Regions from separate parts of the Homo sapiens genome. Here all the other regions are linked to region 1. The links come from fine-mapping of genetic effects on gene expression. A gene starts in region 1. Each other region holds a variant in brackets. All regions are shown on one strand. Distances are from middle to middle.

Region 1 (5,000 bases):
CAAAGCCTCCTGCTGCGCCGTGCTCAAGAGACTATACGCCCCCACACCCAGCTCCCACCCGCCTGCCCTCCCGAGGTGCCCCTTGCTGTCGGATCTGCTCGCTGTCCCCTTCTTTGCCCTTGCTTCCGTGGCCCGCCCTCCGGTCTCTGCCCTGTCAGGCCTCCACGCACCAGCACTTCCAGATCGTTGCCTCCCAGATCCAGCTGTTCCAGCTTGACCAGAAATGACAGGGACCTGCAGAGGAAGCAGGGTGGAGGTGTGGCCACGCAGCCCTGGTCCCTGGGCTGTGGCCCTGCCCTGGCTGTTAGGAGAATGCCTGTCACACTCACGCTGGCAGGGACTTGAGCAGGTTCTCCCGGAGCTCCAGGGTCACCAGGTTGGCGAGGCTGAAAGAGAGACCAGGCGCTGGGGCAAGAGGAAGGAAAGCAGTGGCAGCAGGGGCAGGGCCAATCCTGGTCCCCCACCCCACCCTAGTTCCACCTGAGAAGGCACTCACTTGCCCACGTCCCCGGGCAGTGCCTGCAGAGACACATCATTCAGGGCCAGGTGAGCCAGGCTGCGCAGCTGAGTGAAGCCATCAGGGAGCCTGGATGGGAGGAAGCAGAGGCCCTCGGATGACCAGTCCAGGGCTGTGGGACCCATAGCCCCTACCGACCCCACCACAGGCTGCCACCCACCTGGAGAGGGGGTTCCCGCTGAAGTCCGCGATCTCCAGAGCCTTGCAGAACTTGATGCTCTCCGGGATCTCAGGGATATCTGTCACAGAGGGTCACAGTGGACAGATGCCATGGCCTGCAGGCCGTCTGCAGCCCCAGCGGACACTCCCCAGACCCCACCCAGCCCCTGCCCAGGCTCCCCACCGTTCCGGGACACGTCCAGCTCCACCAGCTGCATGAAGTTGGCCACCTCGGGAGGCAACCGCTGGATCTCGTTGTCGCTCAGGCCCAGCTTGCGCAAGTTCAGCAGCCGGAAAAAAGGCTGTGGGCAGGGAGGACACGGACTCTGTGGCAGAGACCACTGCAGAGCAGAGAAGAGCTCCTGGACACGTGAGTGTCACAAGTCAAGAGTCCCTAGGCCTCTGTCTGCTCCAGGTCACACCGGGTCCTGGGGTCTAACCACGACACCCCATTTGCAAAAAAAGGAAAGAAACACACGGTACACACGCCCACTGTGGCTGCCTCCCTCTACTCTTCACACCAGCCTCCACTCTGAGAAGACACCTGCTGGCGACCAGACAAAGCCCCAATCCCCTACCCTGTGTCTTACCTCAGGGCCCACCCAGCCCCTGAACCACTTCTGCCACCCTCCAGGGGCCCACACTGGCCTCTGCTACTGCATCCTGACAACAAGCCTGGCCTGGTTCTGCAGCAAGAACTCAGTAAACGCTCCCCACAATAACACAGTACCACAGGCACAGTGCTACGCGCGAGGCCTGCAGGTGGCCACAGAGGACCGAGCTGTCACTGCCACGGCCAGAACAGGGTCACATTCTTTGGGACACCCAACCCCTAGGTACTGATCACCCAGCACCCCATCTCCAGAAAAGAAATACTTTTTAATCTGCTTTCTCCAGCCTCCTTTCTTGTAGCAGCCTTAGGAGAGCACCTGACCACGAGAAGCAAGGGTAAAGAAAGGGGGACAGCGAACAGATCCGAGAGCAAAGAGTACATCAAGAGGGCTCCCCCACTCACCCCTGCACCCAGCAAAAAAGGAGAGGAGGTCTGGACCCACCTCCAGAGCGGCCCAAGAAGCTAGTACTCATCAGCCACCTGAATCCAAGTTCCACCCTAACCCCATCCACCTCCCTGAATCCCCACGGGTTTCACTCTGAGGCTCCGCCTCCAGGCTCGGTGACAATCGCTATCCCCAGGCAAGCACCTGATGACCGCTGCCACCTGCGCCAGCCAGGGCGGCTGGAAGAGAAGGGTGGGGCTGGCTGGGGTGGGGACCTGGCCAGTGCAAACCAGCAGGGCCGGCTGGAGGCTGCGGTGACTCGCCCGGGCAGATTCTGCCGCCGGAGGAATCACGGGCTGGGGGCGCGCCTTTGGGCGGCAGGTGCGGGCGGCCGCTCACCTTGGGCAGCTCGCGCAGCTGGTTGGCGTCGAGCAGCAGCTCCTCCAGGCTGCGGCTGTAGCGGTAGATCTCCTCCGGCACGGCCTGCAGCGAACAGTGCCGCTTGTCCACCGACTCCACGTGCCGGTTGCAGCGCCACAGCGGGATGCACTTGAGCATGGTGCGGGTGGGCGGCGCGGGCTCCGGCGGCGGCGCTCGGCGGGCTCGGGGCCGGGGGGCGGGGCTCAGTCCGCATGGGCGCCGCGCATGGGGAGGGGGCGCAGGCAGGGGGCGGGCCGCCCGAGACTGGACGGGGACGCGGCCGCGGCCGGCGCTGGGCCCGGCCCGCGCTCGGAACGCTCGGACTGCGGGCCTGGGCAGGGGGCGCGGCCCGGCGGGTCTCAGACTCTTAGGAAGCGCGGGGAGCGGCGGCGGCGGCGGCTCCGCATCCCGCTTGGTCCTGCTCAGCTCGTCCCGCCCGCTCGTCCGCCCGCTGTGCCGCACCGGAACCGCCGCTGCCCGCCGGACTGCCCCGCCGACACCCACCCGGCCGCCGCGCAGCCCGTCGGGAAGCCGAGTCCGGCCCTCGCCGCCTAGCACGCCCGGACTGCGGCCCCCAGAAGGCCCCGCGCGCCGCCGCCTCTGAGGACCCGTAGCGGCACCGCGCAAAGCGTGCCGGGAAGCCGGGCCCGCCCCGCGCGCGGGATATTGGGAGCTACAATCCACGAGAGGCGGCGCCCTCCGCCCTCCGGTCTTCAGCCCGGCCCCTGGCCCCGCGGCATTTGGCCACGAATCTTAACGCACAGCCTCCTCCCGGGAAGCGACCATGCCCGCCCGCCCGCCTTGGACGGCCGGCTCTGCGGCACAAAAGCACTGGCAGCGCGCGCTGTCCAGCGGGTCGCGGTGTCCCGGTGCCCAGCCTTCTCTCAGCACCACCCTGCGGGGACGGCTGCGAGCCCGCGCGCGAGAGCCTGGCGCCCCAGGCAGCCCCGCCCACCCAGCCGCCGCCACCCGCGGGACGGGGCCCGGGGCGCCAACCCCCTGCCCAGGTCTCGCCCACGGCAGGCCCCTCCTGCCAACAGGAAGCAGGTCCAGAGACCCCCCCAACCCTGCCTCCTCGCCCTAGACCCCCTAAGGACACACGCCCAGGATCGGTGACAGGACCGACGGCAGACACACGGACGTTCAGGGCCAGCAGCATCCGCACCTTTATCCGCACTGTAGGCTGGGCTGGGCAGAGCGCGCCTGGCCCCGGGGACACCACTGTATCACTATAAAACCCAGAGGAAACAAGGAACAAGTGCAAGTCCGGGGAGAGGGACCACTGTCACGCAGAGAGGTCACTGTTATCAAAACGCTCCTGGTCGTACACTTCAGCCACCACCTTGCGGCCAGCAAACCAGCGGCCATTGAGGGCCTGGATGGCCTTATGAGTCTCAGAGGCTATGGAAAACTCCACAAAGATCTTGACAATGATTTCTGCATCCTCCTCCTCGCCTTGTTTCTCTTGGTAGATGATGACGCGGTTCACGGCCCCGAACTTGCCACACTCCTCTGTCACCTCCCCTTCCAGGTCATCATCGATGTCCTTGGGGTCCACCATGTTGCGCAGAACCATCACTGTAGACTGTGGGGCAGGGCCGAGGGGAAGACAGCTGAGCACTGCGGCCCCGCCCCCCTACCCTCTCCCCCGCCACCACCCTGCCCCTCTGCCTACCTCCTGCTTGCGGAGCAGCTTCTGCATCACCATGTGTCGGGCGCTACTGCCCGAGATGCTCATGTGCTCCTGCTCGCTCAGCATCTCTGGCCGCTCTGACTCGGGAAACAGCTCCTCTTCTTCCTTCTCCTTCTTGGGCTCCAGGAGACCCAGCGTTGGAGGGCTGGCCAGGATGGGGTTCACCACTCCCACCGAGGGGATGGTGACCGGGATAGGAGGACGGGCTGGGGTCACACCTGCAGGAAAACCAACCAGGTCCATCAGTCACTCCCTACCACCCCCCTTCCCAGAAAGGCACAGAGCTGGCCTGCCCTGGGCTCAGAGGGTTGTGCCCAGACCACCAGGGCCAGGCAGCTGAGGGCAGCGAGCCGAGAGATGCCAGGACAGGAGAGGAGAGGATCTGGTACCACTTAAGACTCACCTGTGATGACTCCAGGTGCCTGGGCAGCCATGACAGCCTGGGGCAAAGTGCCCAGGGGCTGGGCCAGGGTCAGTGCTGGGGACACCAGTCCAGGTGTGCCCAGGGTACCCAGCACCGCTGCTCCGGCCACTGCTTCCTGCAACCCAAAAGGTCACCGTGCTCAGTCCCTGGTCTGGCTACTCAAGACCACCTTGAATCAGTCTCCAAGGAATCAGGGGCCAGCCCGCCCACCCTCAAGCCGACAGCTGTGTGGGCCCTCACCTGAGCTGTGATCTTGGCAGTGGCTGCAGCAGCTGCCACAGCAGCGGCAGGTGGGAGGCCTCCAGGCGTGGCTGGTGTGAGTAGGGGCATGGGCGGTGTGACAGCCTTGCCCACCCGCAAGTACTGGCCACCCAGGTCAAAGAGGTTCATGGAAGACACAGCATCTTGGGACGACTGGGCCTTCTCGTACTCTGTGGGCAGGAGCAGCAGTGAGCAGGGCCAGCCCCAGCCTCAGGTGGCCCCCATCCCGCCTCAGCCACCCCAGCTCACCAATGAAGCCGTAGCCCTTGTGCTTGCCAGTTGTGGGGTCCCGGGCCAGTGTGCAGGACTTGATCTTGCCAAAGGCCTCAAACACGCTCTTGATGTCATCGTCTGAGAGGTCCTGGTGCACAGAGGCCACGTAGATGCGGTTGAAGGCCCGTGCCTCCTCAGCCAACTGGTCTATGATGGGCTGGGCCTGCCCTATGTTGCTGGGTCTGCCCACCTGGGGAAGAGGCGGTGAGATGGAAAGACCGGTCAACCCAGGCCCGGCCACAAAAGGCTTCCGTG
Region 2 (5,183 bases), 88 kb before region 1:
CCCCACTTTGGGAGGCTGAAGCGGGCTGATCATTTGAGGCCAGGAGTTGGAGACCAGCCTGGCCAACATAGTGAAACCCTGTCTCTACTAAAAATACAAAAACTACCTGGGCGTGGTAGCATACATCTGTAATCCCAGCTACTCAGGAGGCTGAGGCAGGAGAATCGCTGGAACCCGGGAGGCAGAGGTTGCAGTGAGCCCAGACCGCTCAACTGCACTCCAGCCCTAGGTCTCAAAAAAATAAAGGGGGCGGGGGGGACTGAGGCACAAAGAGATGGCGGAGCCAGACGCTGCGCCACGCAAGGCTGACGGTGCAGAGATGAAGGTGCTGAGGGGAGAAAGGCACTGGTGGCGAGGGGTGCAGCCCCAGCGTTGGGGAGGCCAGGGGGCAGAGACGGCAGCTGCCAGGTGAGCCTCCAGTGGAGCCGAGGTCTGGCGCACTCAGCCAAGCCCCAAGCGGCCGTGGCCTGACAGCCGCTGCTCAAGCAGATGAGCAGGGCTCTCTGTTCCGCGGGGCTTCTGGATGACCGGGGCAGCGATGCGGGCACCCTGGCCTGGGTTGCCAGGCCAGAAGACTCACTTCTTGCTTTTGAACGTGCCCAGGATCTTGGGCACGAACTTGCCCACCTTGCTGTCCCTGGTGCCCTCCTCCGCGGGGCCTTCCCCTGCCCCAGGGCTGCTGGCCTCCTCTTTCTTGCAGAAGACCTCGAAGCGGCTGTACACGCGCTTCTCCTTGCGCATGCTCTCCATGCGGCGCAGCAGCCGATCGCGCTCCTCCGCGCTGGCTGGCAGCGTGCGGCTCAGCCGGCCCTGGGTCCCCAAGCTGTCCGAGCGGAAGATGGCTGAACACTTGTCCTTGTCGGACATATCTGGGGCCAGGACGCCAGCAGCCGGTGGACGGCCTAGCTCGGGGCTGTTGTGGGTCGGGCCGGGGCTCGGGGCAGGGACCGCACGGTGCTTCTGGCCGTGGGCACTGATCTGCTCCAGAATGGCCTTCGTGTCATCCCGAAGGTTGCTGCTGTACAAGGCGTTGGCCGTGGCTGAGGACAGGCGCGCCCGCGGACCCCGCTCTTCTGTGGCAGCCTCCGTGCTGTCACCCTGGCCCAGTGACAGACGCCGCGGGCTCTCGGGTTGGCCGTTCTCCTGCGGCACTGGGAAGCCACCCTCATCCTCCATGCGCCGCTCGCCCTTGGGGCTCAGCAGCTGCCTAAGACGCAAGGAGCCTTTGCGCAGGACTTCCATGGGGCCGCTCGGCCCCTCCTCCGCGGGCCCGGCCTTCGGGGACTCCCCGGAGATGGTAAGGGTGAGGCTGCCCCTGCGCTCCGGCACGGGGGGCACCGGACTGCTCCTGCGCTCCGGCACGGGGGGCACCGGACTACCCCTGCGCTCGGGGTAGGCTGAGGTGGGGCTCCCCTTCTGCTCGATAAATCCTGTAGTTGGACTTCCTCTTCGAGTGGAAAACCCAGGCGTGGGGCTCCCCTTCCGCTCAGGGTAAGCCGAGGTGGGGCTCCCTTTTGACTCATTATGGAGCACCTGGTGCGCTCCGGACCCTTCCAGCGGCAGAGGGCTGTCCAGCCCTTGCGGGGACGTTGAGTGGCTCTGGGCAGAGAGGAAGCGGGAAGGCAGGCGGTCGGAGCCGCTCCGGCCCAGTGTGTCGAGCAGCTGCGCCGCGGTGAGCGACGCGGCTCCCGGCTGCCGCTCCGCCTCCTGGTGCAGCTGCTGTGCAAAGGAGTCGCGCAGGTCCAGCAGGCAGCTCTCGAGGCTGCGGCGCTCGCCCCCCACGGCACCTGGGGCCGCCACCTCTTCCCGCCACGCCTGGGACACGACGGCCTTGCTGTGGCTGGCAACGGTGATGGCGCCCGCGCCGCCGCCGGGATCACGGGCTGGGCCCTTGTACTTCTCCAGCAGCTCCGCCACCTTGGTGGAAGCCGCGGAGCGCACGGCCTCTCCGCCGGGCCCCAGCGTCTCGCTGACCGTCTGCTCCTTGTGCAGCAGCTGCACCTTCTCAGTGGCCGCCGCAGCCCCGGCCGCGCCCTCGGCCTGTGACGTGCTGAAGATGAGCGAGGAGCGCAGCCTGGAGCTGCGCTGGACCAGGGGGTTCAGGCGCGAGCGGAATGAGTCCTGCTTGGCCAGGCCAGGCTCCTCCGGGCCCTCGCGCTCTGGGCCGTTGCCGCCGCTGCCCGGGCCTGGCACCGGGACCTTGGTGGGGAAGGCTGCTGGGACGCGGAAGGCCGAGGGGAGCAGGTCGCCGGCAGGTGCCCGGCCCCCGGGAGCCAGCACGTCGTCTTCGTAAGCCTCCGCTTCCATGGGCGCCGGTAGGCCGTCGTCGCCCCCATCCTCGCCGTGGCAGCCGCTCAAGTAGGAGGCCAAACGCCAGCGCCGCAGCCCTGCCCGCCCCTCGGGCCCGCCCCTGCGCTCCGGCTCCGCCTCGGGAGCGGGGTCTGGGCCCGGCCTCGCCGCGGCCTGGCATGGGAAGCGCTGGGTCAGGTTGGGGCGCGGGGCTCCGCTGGGCTCCAGGCCGCGGGGTCCGGGCGCGAAGGCGGGGTCCGAGCCGTGGCGCACCTCGCGGGACGCGCTGGACGGCACGTAGTCCAGCCGCTGGTGCCCGTCGGGTCCGAGCTCC[G/A]GGAAGCGGGGCCCGGCGCCCAGGGTGAAGTCATCCGGGTCCGCGAAACCCGCGCGGCCCCCGCGAAGCTTCTCGAACAGGCCTTGCGGGCGCGCCGGCGTGAGCTGCGGGTCCCACTGGTACTGCTGCTGGTAGAGCTGGTCACGGTGGAAGTGGCTGGTCTGGAAGCGGAAGTCGTCGCCGTGGCTGAGGAACGTCTGCCGCGACACCTGCCGCGCGGCCGCGAAGTTCTCCACGGCGCCCGCGCCCTCGGTCGCGAAGCTGTGCCGCTTGAAGGCGTCCATCTCCAGGTGCCGCGCCTGGAAGAAGCCCCGCGCGCCCGCGAGCTCCCCAGCCGGCCCGGCCTCGGCCTCCAGGCGCCGCGAGAGCGGCCGCAGCCCCGCGTGCGGTTCCAGCGCGCCCCCCGGCATCCGCGGCGGCTCCTCCCGGCGGAAGGCCGACAGGAAGTGGCGGTCCGGGTCGAGGAAGGAGGGGAAGCCCAGGCCCTCTTCCCGGGGTGGCGGGAACAGGAGGTGCGCTCGTTTAGGGAAGGAGAAGGGGGTTGGCGCCCCGACCCCAGGGACGCCCACGAGAGGCCCGGCCCCGGCATACGGAGCCAGGGCATAGGCGTCCATGCGGGCCAGGGCCGCGGCCGAGGGCACAAGCGGCTCGGACTGCGCGAAGAGGATGCGGAACTCCTCGTCGAAGCTGGAGACCAGCTCTCCTTGGAACACGTGCGCCAGGCTGCGGTGGATCTTCTCAAAGGACCACATGAAGCTGTGGGGGGGTCAGGGCCAGAGTCAAACCGAGCTGGAGCGAGGGCACTGCAGCCCCGTGGGCAGCGGGTGGGGCGCGGAGGACGCAGGGATGTGAGGTCTGCAAGGACCTGGGCCCGGCTAGGCTGTGCAGGGGTCTACAGGACAAGGGCTCCTGGCGAGGAGGGCCCTGGTGTGGAAAGGGGGTGCTGGGGTTACAGGAGGAGGCCCCAGAGAAGGGGGTGAGGGAGCCCCGCGGGCGCACCTGTAGCTCCCACTCATCACCACGGCACAGTCCACCAGCAGGAACTTCTCCTTGACGTGGCCCTTGAAGGACTTCCCAGTGCGGCAGTAGTAGGTGGGGCCCGCCACAGTCCGTACGCGCAGGAACTGGGGAGGGAGGGGAGTCAGATCTCTCCCACGGGTCCTCCCCAATCTCCCACTCCCGGGAACTCACATCCACGTGCTGCAGGTTGACACGGCACTTGTCGGCCATGTCCAGGAAGTGCTGCGCGTTCATCTCATCCAGCAGGATGTAGACTGGGACCCGACGGGCCGCGGCCTCCAGCACTTCGCTGAGCAGGTCCACATCAGTGAACATGTCCATCACCACGGCCACCACCTGCAGGGGCGGGTCAGGACGGAGAGGAGAGGCCCCTGCTGTCCCCACACCATTGTCCAGCCTCCCCTCCACACCCGGGAGGTGTCTGGATCACCCACGACCACTGTGAAACAAGCTAGTCCATCCTAGGGAGTTGGCGCCACATCTGGGAAGATGGGCAGGAAGAAGGGACCAAACAGAAGAGGTGTGGAACGGCTGGCCATAAGGGGGAAACCGAGGCAGGTGCAGGGCAGAGAACCCTGGATGAGGGTGGGCCAGGTTGGGGCACGGCAAGGGCCCCTCAATCCCCTCCACCCTACAGACGGCTGAGCTGCCCCCATTCCAGGGCAGCTGTCAGGGCCAAGTGCCAGGCTCCAGTTCTGCCCTGGGACGGGGTTGTTGCCCTGGGCAGGGGAGAAAGTCACAAGCCTTTAGCGTCTGGACCTCATGCCTCAGTCGCTATGGTTTAACAGCACCTTCCGCCGTCTGCTAGCTGTTTGGTGATGGTTAGAAGCCCTCAGCTGGCCAAGGGCCACCGGGCAGGATGAGAGGTAATTATCTGAACAATGAACCCAGGCTGGTGGGGTGCCCACCCATCCCCAGAGCCCCCGAGTTTCTGGGCACTGGCCATGACCACAGGCAAGCAGACCTGTGCAGAGCCTGCAGCCCCTGATGACCGAGACCTGGCAGCCCTGAAGATCTTTGCCAGGGACCCCCACTCCAGCTGGAGCTCAGGCTCACCCCTCAAGCTGATCATGCTCATGCATCTCCTCCACCCCCGTGCCTCTAGCCCAGGCCCCTCCCCCACTACCCTCAAGCCCAAGATGGCGCACCTGCTGGGCGGAACGGATCATCCTGCGGGCCTCATCCTTGATACTGGGGCTGTCGGGGGGCGGTGGCTGCACCAAGGTGGTCACCTCGGTGCCCTGGAAGCCGAAGGTCAGAGGCCAGCCCAAATCAAGCTCAGGCACGGCCTGGTCTGAGTTCACTGGCCAGTATGTACCCGAGGAGCCATCCATGTCCACGTCGAGAAGGCTGCCTTCAGGTGGCTCTCGGGTAACATACTGCGGAGGCCGAAGGTGTCGGCTCACATGTTCCAGCTCTTCAGGGCACAGGAAGTCTGGTGCCCCCTCGGTAGCGAGGAAGCGGCTGTAGGCCTCCGAGCCACCCTCGGCCAGTGCATCCACCGCCAGGCGGTAGTACTCTTTGTAGTGAGGCGGCAGGT
Region 3 (5,183 bases), 23 kb before region 1:
GAAAGATGTAGGCAACCGCATCCGTGCCGATGGCCGGTCAGTTCTCCGGGCCAGACGTGGGCGATTTGGGGTTTGGACAGACAGCAGTGACCTGATGGGTGTCCCCAGGTGGCCTCTTGTTATTGACCCTTTGGGCCAGGCGGCCACCTTCCTGCGCTACCAGGATACCAACTATGTGGACACGGTGAACCCGGAGCCCCTGAGGCCGGAGACGATGTGGCTGGCTCTGCTGGGGGCTCTGCGGTGAGGCAGGCAGGGTGACAGGTACACCCCACCCCACCTCCCTAGCCCCACCCTGGCCTCACCAGCCTCATGGGGCAGGTATGGGAAGCCGCTGGTGTTCGACCTGCGAGAGGAAGACCTGTTCCCAGTCGTGCAGCGGCAGCTGGAGGCGGTGCAGGAGAGGTACCTGTCGCTGCTGCGGCCCACGGACGGGCCTGAGTATAGCCCCACGCAGTTCCAGGAGCAGCGGCTGGAGCACTTCCGCCTCTTTTTCGTCACCAAGGTCCAGTGGCCGCCAGCTGAGCAGCTGCAGGTGCTGCTCCCAGTGCGCGTGCAGCTGCCAGGCACAGGCCTCTAGTGCTGGCCCCAGTCCCAATAAAACGTGTGCCCCGGGGCGCGGTGCTGCATCTGTGCTGCGTGCGTGGGGGCAGCGGTGGCGTGTGCCAGTCCAGGACTCCGGCAGTCCCGGGCCCCGGCCGGCGGACATGGGTCTGCAGGCACTTGGGGGAGGCCCTGCTGGGGATGGGCAGCCTGCCCGGCCGACCCGTGCGCAGTGAGGCGCAGCGGGAGACGTGGGAGGGACGGTGAGGGTGCAGCCCTCGGAGCTCAGCCTCGCCTCGGAGGGCAGGAAGGGTCTGTGCTAGTGGGTGGGGGATGGACAGGCAGACGGGAGGTAAAATGTAGTCAACTTTATTCTCCTTAAACCACAAAATAGAGTCTTTGGTTGTACAAACATCACTAGTTACAGTCTCGCCGAGGTCTCGGCTGGGGTGGGGCAGTTAGTTAGTCACAGGCCAGAACTCCTGTGGGGTCTCTTTAAAATGCTAACACCCAGGTTAAAAGACTTGGGGCAAGGGTGGTGCTGGAGCTGGCAGGGCCCCCACCCCAAGTCTGGGGGAGGTGCCTGCTCCTCTAGGAGGGCACAGGGCCCAGGCCACGGCGCCCAGGCCTTACGGGGCGGCGGCTGCTGCACAGTGCCACATCTTCAGGGCCCACAGCGCCGGGTGAGGGCCTGCCCAGAAGCACCAGAGCCACTTCTCCATCCTCCTCCTGCGGGCCTGGAGGGCAGGGACAGGTGGGCAGTGAGCTGAGGGCAGCTGGGCTCCTGGGAGCTCACCCCAGCCCGGCCCCAACTCACCAGGGCTGGGAGATGGTTCCAGGGACCTCAACTCCTCAGCAAAGTCCGGTGACTGTGATGGGGAGAGTGTTGGTCAGGCCGGTGCCAGCCCTGCCCCAAACCACCCAGGTGGACGGGTGGGCTCCCAGCCCTGAGGCCCACAGAGCCCGGCTGAAGGGGGAGGGGGGGTGAAGAGGCAGGGCCACGGCAGAGCGTGGGGAGGCCCTGCGGGAGCGGATGGGGGCGGTGGCAGGCACGGACAGGGTGGCAGGCATGCAGAGGCCTGGAGGCCAGGTACCTGGATGTCATAGACAGGTCTGGAAGAAGGCAGGGCCGCAAAGGCCCTGTAGTCAAACTTCTTTCCAGACAAGGGCTTGAAAGGACAGCGTGAGGGGAGAGGCAGAGAGTGAGAGGAAAGGGGGGGATGAGGGCCACGGGGGTGGGGGCAGGCCAGACCCCACCCCCATGCCTCGGGGGTGAAGGGAAGGCATAGCCACCGGCTCCTCACCAGGCGTCCCGGGGAGGTGCTGGTCTGGGGGCCGAGGTCTGGGGGGACAAGAAGCGGGCATTGGAAGCAGCCCATGCGGCAGGCTGACCCCCCCGACCTGCCCTGACCCACAGACCTTCCACAGGGGTGGGCGACGGGGTGGGCGCAGGGGAAGGGGCCTCGGCCAGTCGCTCCAGGGGCCCCCGCGTGCCCCGGCCTTCCTGGGACCTGCTGAGGACCATCTGTGCTCGGAGAGCGTCCTGTTCCAATGACTTCATCCTGCAGAGAACAGCGGGCAGGGGTGACTTGGGGCAGGAGCAGGGACAGGCAGCAGGGCGGGGTGGCGACCCCACACAGGGGCTCACCTGGCTGCCCTCCACAGCGCACGCTTCTCGGCCTCCAGGGCCCGGAGCTCGGCAGGGGACAGGGCACGCTCGGGTGCCGGTGGCTCCGGACTCTGCACGCGCAGCCGCTCCTGGTGGCGCCGTTCAGCTTTGGCCGTCCGCACCGGGGCGCCACCTCCCAGGGGTGGGGGGGACGCCGGGCTCTGCCTGGGGAAGGGACAGGACGTGCTGTGGGGGGCAGGGGCACGTGGGGTGAGTAGGGGGCGTCTGGTGGGCGGGTGCTCACCTTGAGGTGGGGCTCGGGCTGGCCCAGGGTGGCTGCTCATCCTCCTGTTCCTCCTCGCCCAGCGTCTCCCCGTCCAGGGCGAGCCTCGCTTCGGCCCCAGCCTCTGCCGCCTCCCGCAGCATCTGCGCTCTCTTCTGCTGTAGTTTTCTGGCTGCCGGAGGGCAGGGTGGGTCAGGCCAGACCAGCCGAGACCCAACCCCCACCCCACTTCCGTGCCCCTCACCTTCCTCCTCCTGCATCTTCCGCAGGTCGTCAGCACCCACCAGGGACACGCGCTTAGGGGGGCCCTCGGCCTGGGGCACGCGCACCTCCAGCTCAAAGTACTTCTGCCGCTCCCGGAAGGACAGCTGCTCCGGGGAGGCTGCAGGCCCAGGCGTGGGGGGCTGGGGGGAGCGGACCTTGAGGTTTGGCTGGCATTCCTCCGAGATACTGGGGCCCCCGGGCACCCACCCCAACCACGCGCAGCAGGGAGGCGTGCTGCCCCCACACACCTGGGCAGGGGCATCCTCAGGC[G/A]GGTGAGAAGTGGGCACGGCCGCGAAGGCCCTGTAGGCCTGCTTCACATTGGCGGGCAGCTCATCCGGAGAAGGCGGGGAGGGCGGCTGGGGGGTGGGGCTCTTGTGAGCTATGCTGGGGCAGCTGTCGGGGCTGCAGCTGTGTGCAACTCACCACCGGCTGTCCCCCCGCCTGTCCCCCCGCCTGCCTTTGATCCCCACCCACCATCCTGCTGGGGAAGGAGGCTCTGCCACCCCCACCCACGGGACAGAGCACTCACGGAGTGGGGACAACCTCTGCCCCTGGGGGCTGGGGAGCCCCTTGGCCAGGCCTGAGCCAATGGCTGGATCACCCCTGGTTTTGTCTAAAAAAGGCAGGTGGGGGCGGCGGGGGCAGAGGAGAGCAGGATCAGGGGTTTAAGGCAAGGGACGGGGGTAGAGAGGGGGGTGGGAGAGACAGAGAGAGAGAGACCGACCAACCTGGGTGGGGCTGACATCTTGCCTGTGAGGGGCTGAGCTGGGGCTGGGTCTCATGGGGGCTGCCACCTCCACCCCCACGTGGCAGTGTGTTGGGAGGTGCCAACAGTGGGGGGGCAAGGACCCCCAGACAAAAGGCAGGCAGGGATAAGGTGGGCCCTGGGAGGTGTTGGGCCTGAGACACTGACTGGGGTCTCAGGAGCTTGAGCCCCTCCAGGAACAGCACACTCAGGCCCCCCACCCCATCGCCAGGCAGCTCTGGCCAGGAAAGCGTCCCTGGCCTTCCTCACACAGGAGGCCCCATGGTAGCAGAGGGAAAACCGGAGTCAACAGCACCCCACGATGGCCCCTGACCCCCCATCCCTGGAGGAGGGGCCCTGTGCACAGCGGCCATCTGCCCTGCCCTCCACCCACCATGGGGCACACCCGTTAACTTGGGACACTCACCTGCTGGCCACTAGGGGAGCAGGGAGATTCAGCCATCTTCCCTCCAGCTGCTCCAGACGGTACCTGGAGGAGTAGGCAGTGGGTGGGGTGAGGATGGGCAGGGCTGTGGCCCCCGACCAGGAGGGACTGGGGGCCCTGGGGCTTGCCTAAAAGCCACAGCAGCTCTTCAGTTCCCCAACCTGACTATAGCCCAGGGGATGCCCCAGACACTCGGTCAGCACGGAGGGGCTCGTCCCCGTTCCCACAGGATGCGGGGGCCTGGGCTGGGCAGCTGCTGTCTCCATGGCAGTGTGCTGGCTGGAGCTTTGCAGGAGAGATGGGAGCAGACAGGACAGCCGGAGAAGAGAGCAGGGAGGGCTCGGGGGAGGGGCCAGAGACAGAGGTGATGGTGGGGAGCCCCTACTTGTGGTGTGCAGCCCTCAGGGCTCAGTGGCGCCCTGACTGCTGCCCCCATGACTGTGCTGTTGTTCATGAGGATGAAGGGCCTCCCGGAAGCCTCCCTCTTGGCGCTGCCCATGGCCAGAGGAGGCAGGGTCAGTACCCAAGAGCCCCCGAATGCGCTGCCTCAGATCCAGGCCCTGCCTGGCCCCTCACCACCACCCCACCGCTTGGGCAAGGGCCTGCAGGAGCCACCCCTCGGCACTCACGTTCGGTGGGGCTGGTGGGGCGCACCCTCTGGGAGGGTTATTTGTATCTCTAAGGGGAGGGATGGGCCTGCACATCCTCCTGCCTGTCCCCAGCACCCGCCCCTCCAGCTGCTCCAGCCTGTCCTCCCCTTGGGGACATGTGCCTGCCCAATCCCCCAGGAGCCTCTGCCCCCACTCGCACCCTCTGGGGCTGGGCAGCCCCAGCAGCAGCAGGTGAAGCTCTCGCACCGCCACTAGAGGGATGCCTCGGCCTGTGTCACCCATCCGCAGCTCAGGGTGTGTGGGTGGGGCAGCACCAACATGGCTTGGGTTGAGAATGAGGGTGATAAGCATGTGCCAGGCTGGGGTAGCCTGCAGGTCAGACGTGGCCTCCTCCCACCCCAGCCCCCGCCCAAAGGTTCCCTCCCGGATGGCCCTGGCGTTTGTCCTGGGGTGGCCGATGAACAGGACAACAGGACGGAGGTGGGGGGCACTGCACACTGGGCACTCACCCTCTGCACGCTGCCAGCGCTGGGCACGGCGGCCAGGGCGCGGTAGTCCAGCTTCAGGGGCTGCAGACCCCGACCCTGGGGGCAGAGTGAACACAGCACTAGCAGGGGTAGCTCCGTGGCAGCACCCGGCCAGCACAGGGCAGGAGAGGGGGTCCTGGGGGTTACTACCCAGCA
Region 4 (5,183 bases), 110 kb before region 1:
AGGAGCACCAGGGCCAGGCCCCGGGAGGTGCTGGGGGGGACTGGGGGCACCCACTTGAGACCCCAACAAGGGAACTCAGGGCCCCGGGGAGAGGGAAGCCCGGGCTGAGCGCCACAGACCTGCTCAGAGGGAGGAGCCGGCCCGCGGGACAAGGGGCAAAGGAGGCCACCACCAACCCGCAGAGCCGCAGCCGCCTCCACGCACCCCCGGAATCCACGCCTCCCGAACCGGAAGCGCGGCGCCGCTCTAGCCCTGGGCACTCGCTGGTCGCGTCGCGGCCACGAGGAAGGTTGAGCGCGAGCTGGGCGGGCGTCCCGCGCAGCCCGGAGAGCTGACCCTCCACGGAGGGGCATTTTAATAACCGCCTGTACACATCCAGACGCGACAACTAAATGCAACACGTGACCCTGGAAGATGGGGACAGCCACAGAAACACTTGGGACGGGTGACAAAGTTGTGATGTGAGCGACGATGGGGATAATATTCCTCCACAGTAAATGTCCTGGTTCTGATCACTGCACTAAAGCATCGTAGGAGAACATCCCTCTGTTCAGGAAATACACACGAAAGTACTTCGGGGCTCCGGGGCCAGCGTCTCCAACCGCATCTCAAACGGTTCCGAAGCAACGCTCGTGCACAGCGATACACACGGACCAAATTCACGGGCAGCGTCAGCGGCCGGGCATCCGGATAAAGGGTCCATGGCGGTCCCTGTGCTATTTTTGCAACTTTCTCTAAGTTGGAAAGTATATCAAAGTTTTAAAATTACTGAAAAACTCCCAGTAGGTTGAACATAAGACATCCCCTTGGCGCGGAGAACAAAGTCTACGCTTTTCCCCCGGGCCTCACCGTAGCGGCCCAGCTGCCAGCTGCCGCTTCGTCGCACGTCCGCGCCCGCCAGTGCCCGGGCTTGCTCTGAGCCTGCCGGCTCGCGGTAGGGCCCCACTGAGGGCAGGGATGCGGGGTCCCAAAGGGCATTCAGGGAAAGCAGGCGCTGAGCTCTCTTGCAGCTTGGAAATTGGACGCACGAATGAGTGGCCGGCCGGAAATGCTAGAGCATGCACGCGGGTGTCAGAGCCGCCTGGGGGCCACGCCTTTATTAACCATTGCATTATCCCCGTAAGCGCCCTGCGCGCCTGACTCGCCCACACTAGGGCCTCCTGGGCCTCACTCTCTGCAGGTTCAGGCTCTACCCGGGGAGGCTTCTGCCGCAGCTTCAGCGTTCACGCTGTCCTCCGACTGTGGGGGGAGAAGAGCCGGATCCCGATCCCGGGACAGGCCAGAGAGAAGCTTGGGGCCAGACTTCGTGGAGCGGAGAGTGTCCTGTGAGGACACCCTCGGTGAGGACCCCGAAGAGATCCCAGAGCCCTCGAGTGACTGCACCAGCGACAGGGCCCGGGAGCCTGCGCGCGAAGCGGTCAGGGATGGCATCCGGGATCCCACCTTTGAAGTGGCCAGCGATGGGACCCTGGAGTCCATGCTCGATAGCACCAACGAGGGGACCCGGGAAGCCTCGCGCGACGGGACCACGGACGAGGCCCGGGGGGCCGCGCGCGACGGTACCACAGACGGGGTCTGGGAGGCCGCGCGCGACGGGCTTATGGGGGCGGCTAATGACCCGGGGCGCGAGGTGGGCTGGGAGAAGGCCGGCCGCTCCCAGAGCGGCGGGCCTCCGGGGCCCCTGCGCAGCCAGCCGTGCACACGCGCCAGGTCCCGCGTGTCCTCGTGCTCGCGGTGCAGTTGCTCGCGCTGTTCCAGCAGCTGGCGCCGCGTGTGGTGCAGCAGCTGGGTCCGGCGGAGCAGCAGCAGCAGCTCCTGCCGCAGGCGTCCGTTGTCCGCTTTGATGGCCTGCGTGTGCGCCACAAGCGCGCGCACCGCCTCCCGCTCCGCGCGCCGCGCCAGTGACTGCACGCGCTGACGCGCCTCGCGCTCGAAGGCCGCCTTGTCCTCCAGGAAGCGCCGCTTCACGCGGTGGAGCAGCTGCGTGTGCTCCACGCGCATATGCAGCAGCTCGCGCTCCAGCGCCCGGATCCGGGCCAGCTGCTCCAGCTGCAGCACCTGCGGCGGGGGCGCCGTCAGCTCACCCCCACCCCGCCCCCGGCCCGGCCACCAGCCCCGCCCCGCCTCACCCCGGCCGCGGGCGGGCTCACTGGCCTTGTAGGGCTGCAGCTCTTGCACCTGCTGTGCCATCTGTGCCGCGCGCGCCTCCATCTCCAACAGCTGCGCGCGCACCCCGTCCTCGCGCCCGTGGTAGAGCGAGGCCAGTTCCGCCCGCTGCCAGTGGATCTGCGCTAGGTCCACGCGGTTCTGCTCGTCCAGCCGGACGATGGCTTTGGCGCAGCGCTGGGCGCGCGCGCTCACGTAGCTGGCGTAGAGCCGGTTCTCCTCGCGCAGGCGCAGCGCCTCGCGGTCCAGGAAGGCGTTCTCTCGCAGCACCTGGTCAACGCTCTCCTCGCAGGTGTCCAGCTGCTCCGAGAGCAGCGCGTGTTCGCGTTGCAGGTACTGCGCGCGCTCCGATAGCGGCTGCTCGGCACCCGCGGCCGCCGCACCACCTGGCTGGCTCCCTGCGCTCGGCCCGCGCTTTTTCTTGGGCGCCATGGGTTGGTGCCTGGACCACCAGGACTGGTGAGGGCAGCGACCCCGGCCCCTTCCCCAATTTAGCCCTTCCTCTTACCTGGCCTAAATATTCTAGGCGCCAGGCCCAGAGGTGGGACGCGCCTCGGGGTCACGAGGCTTTTGGGGAGGCAGATCGGGGCTTTGGGTCGCGGGTCAGGGCAGCTTTGCCAACCTTCACTCGTGGGCTCCCGCTGGACCTTCGCTGTCCGTCTGGGTGCGCCTAACATTAGTAATGTTGCTGCT[C/T]GGCGGGCACGGTCTCTATGGAGACAGAACTTACTCGTCCTCTCCCACCCCCACCCCGTTACTCTGGCGATGGCCGACTCCTTCATTCCGCACAACTCTCTCATCTTGAGTCGCCCGTGACTGCTTGTGAATGTGCCCCCAGAGATAGGGCCTGAGCTGACAAAACTGGGCTTCAGACGGACTCCGGACGTGCTTCTGAATCTCACAGACCCCAGAAGCGCCCTTCGCCTTCGGTTCAGCAACGGGCCTTCTCCCGGGTTGTCCCCCACTTGAAGAGGAGCTTCACCACGTTCCCCCCCGTTTCCCGAGTGAAATCTCTGTGTTGTCAGGAGGGAGCGCTTCCCTGGAGCATTCGCCTCTTCAGGGACCCTTGCTTTCCCTGAGCATTTCGTGATTCCTTCGGTGAGGCCCCCGTGGGAATTGGGGTTCCTGAAGTATGGAGTCCACTGGGCGCCTAGAGAGCGTTTCTCTCTGAAGGTCCTAAGCGCGCGCGTGCGGCACCCGCTCAGCTCATCCGCGGCTCTGCAGCTGGGTAGCTTCCCTTCCCCGTGTGCCCGGATGGCTGGAGGACATAGGGATCCAAAAAGGGCTGGCTTTTTCTCCTTTTCTGTTGACTTTGTGGACACAACATCATTATTGAAACCATTCCTATAGACTTTATTAATCAGGGAAGAAGGGAGGCGAGAAAGGAAAACAAACCCAGCTTGCAGCTCGCTCAGCATTCATTGTGAGGTCAGCCTGCCTCCCAACTCCTTCCTCAGAGCTGTTTGGTGCCTGTGGCCCCAGAATCACACAGACCCTGTCACAAGATGAGAGGTCCCCATAACTGCTCTATAGGTAACAACTTAAACATAGTAAAATGTGAGGTTTTCTATTTGACAGGTCCTGCACACCCATGAAGCGACTGACCCAGCTGGTCTGAAGCACCCCACGAGGAGGTAATGTGCCAAAGAACGCAGGGTACACATCCTGAGGACTTCATCCCCTTTCCCCGGCCAATTGATGACCCCATTTTACAGTCCGTCACCCGCCACAATCCCTTTAAAAACCCCAGCCCAGAACTCAGGGAGATGGATTTGAAGGTCCCTCCCATCTCCTTGCTCGGTGTCCGGGGATCATGACACTTTCTCTGCTGCAAACTCTGCTGTCTTGATGTATTGGTCATTACTGCACAGCAGGCATCACCACCTGTTGGTCCTGTAAGATTTGCCTCCGTCTAGACCAGCGGTCCCCAGCTCCCGTTCTGTTAGATGCCTCAGGAACAGTGTGTCCAGCAGCCTTTGACACACAACTTAAATCGACCCCTATTTTGTGTTCTGTCATCATAGAGTTGAGTTTCTGCCCAGTTTGTCCACATTTGCTGGGATGTGGGCAGATTTGAGGATCTTTGTGAGGGACACAGTTTAGAAAACCACATTTGCACAGAGGTTTGTGGTGGAGGTCGTCTGGTGGCTCATGGACATGGCTGGGCTTGCTCTGATCAGCCAACCTGCCTGAAAGGTGCAGCAGAGCCTTTTAAAATTAAGAACACGATTGAGGCATTTTACTCCTTGTAAAAAAATGTATTTTAGGCTGGGCGCAGTGGCTCACACCTGTAATCCCAGCACTTTGGGAGGCTGAGGCAGGCAGATCACGTCAGGAGATCCAGACCATCCTGGCCAACATGATGAAACCCTGTCTCTACTAAAAATACAAAAAATTAGCCAGGCGTGGTGGCAGGTGCCTGTAGTCCCAGCTACTTGGGAGGCTGAGGCAGGAGAACGGCGTGAACCCGAGAGGCGGAGCTTGCAGTGAGCCGAGGTTGCGCCACTGCACTCCAGCCTGGGCGACAGAGCGAGACTCTGTCTCAAAAAAAAAAAAGTATTTTATAAGTAAAAATAAGAGGACACAAACTACCAAACAAAGCATTAACATTGTAAGAGGACATTGACTTATAAACTAAACTGCATCTGAATGTTGGCTTTAATATATGGGCTTTTAATATGAAAATGGTGCCTCTCCTGTCACAGAAAATTGGGAAAAGACCACATAGAATCATGAGAAAAACATGACCCTGCATCCCTGCATCCCTGCAGCAGGGGCTCAACTGCAGCAGGGACTCATCTGGGGTGGGGGGCAGGCTCATGTGTAGGGGTGCTTAATGCCCAGCGTTGCCTCTTCTGGTTCCTTGCCATGGCCACACCCCAGTGCTCTCCACCCTGCTACCCTCAGGCCTTGTGTGGGGTCACTGTCCCCATTTGACAGATTGAGAAACTGAGGCAGCAATAGGCAGAGGCCTGCTCACATGGGCCAGTCGGGTGCCCCACAGTCTCAGACCCTGTACC

What was found. PIP is the estimated chance that this variant, and not a neighbour inherited with it, causes the effect. A credible set is the group of variants that fine-mapping cannot tell apart.
Region 2: its variant is the best candidate, but not a certain one, in a credible set for the expression of SCRIB in breast (GTEx, PIP 0.76).
Region 3: its variant is the best candidate, but not a certain one, in a credible set for the expression of SCRIB in whole blood (INTERVAL, PIP 0.83).
Region 4: its variant is the best candidate, but not a certain one, in a credible set for the expression of SCRIB in whole blood (INTERVAL, PIP 0.80).

What each region holds. Positions count from the first base shown.
Region 1 is chr8:143,813,141-143,818,140 of GRCh38, forward strand. SCRIB (scribble planar cell polarity protein) reads right to left here and starts at 2,633. Exons shown (of 37, transcript NM_182706.5): 1 at 2,074-2,633; 2 at 861-978; 3 at 678-756; 4 at 497-586; 5 at 330-386; 6 at 171-234. The coding sequence starts at 2,232. PUF60 (poly(U) binding splicing factor 60) reads right to left here. Exons shown (of 12, transcript NM_078480.3): 8 at 4,722-4,935; 9 at 4,452-4,642; 10 at 4,191-4,326; 11 at 3,770-4,005; 12 at 3,204-3,679. The coding sequence ends at 3,380. RefSeq lists enhancers at 1,011-1,675, 1,960-2,592, 2,593-3,225.
Region 2 is chr8:143,725,345-143,730,527 of GRCh38, forward strand. It overlaps FAM83H (family with sequence similarity 83 member H), which reads right to left. Exons shown (of 5, transcript NM_198488.5): 2 at 4,792-5,183; 3 at 3,815-3,979; 4 at 3,623-3,747; 5 at 1-3,379. The coding sequence ends at 577. Among named protein-coding and RNA genes, the nearest start is that of MIR4664, 5.2 kb to the right of the region's middle. The variant G/A (reference allele first, on the strand shown) is at 2,624.
Region 3 is chr8:143,790,029-143,795,211 of GRCh38, forward strand. IQANK1 (IQ motif and ankyrin repeat containing 1) reads left to right here. Exons shown (of 14, transcript NM_001381874.1): 12 at 1-36; 13 at 109-243; 14 at 322-617. The coding sequence ends at 580. It overlaps SCRIB (scribble planar cell polarity protein), which reads right to left. Exons shown (of 37, transcript NM_182706.5): 27 at 5,010-5,084; 28 at 3,872-3,934; 29 at 2,948-3,055; 30 at 2,680-2,839; 31 at 2,457-2,607; 32 at 2,192-2,377; 33 at 1,963-2,105; 34 at 1,848-1,885; 35 at 1,638-1,712; 36 at 1,361-1,412; 37 at 897-1,280. The coding sequence ends at 1,135. Among named protein-coding and RNA genes, the nearest start is that of MIR937, 20 kb to the right of the region's middle. The variant G/A (reference allele first, on the strand shown) is at 2,970.
Region 4 is chr8:143,705,512-143,710,694 of GRCh38, forward strand. CCDC166 (coiled-coil domain containing 166) reads right to left here and starts at 2,598. Exons shown (of 2, transcript NM_001162914.1): 1 at 2,155-2,598; 2 at 1,183-2,058. The coding sequence starts at 2,598. The coding sequence ends at 1,183. LOC101928160 (a long non-coding RNA gene) reads left to right here and starts at 2,540. Exons shown (of 6, transcript NR_134306.1): 1 at 2,540-2,625; 2 at 3,742-3,797. The variant C/T (reference allele first, on the strand shown) is at 2,860.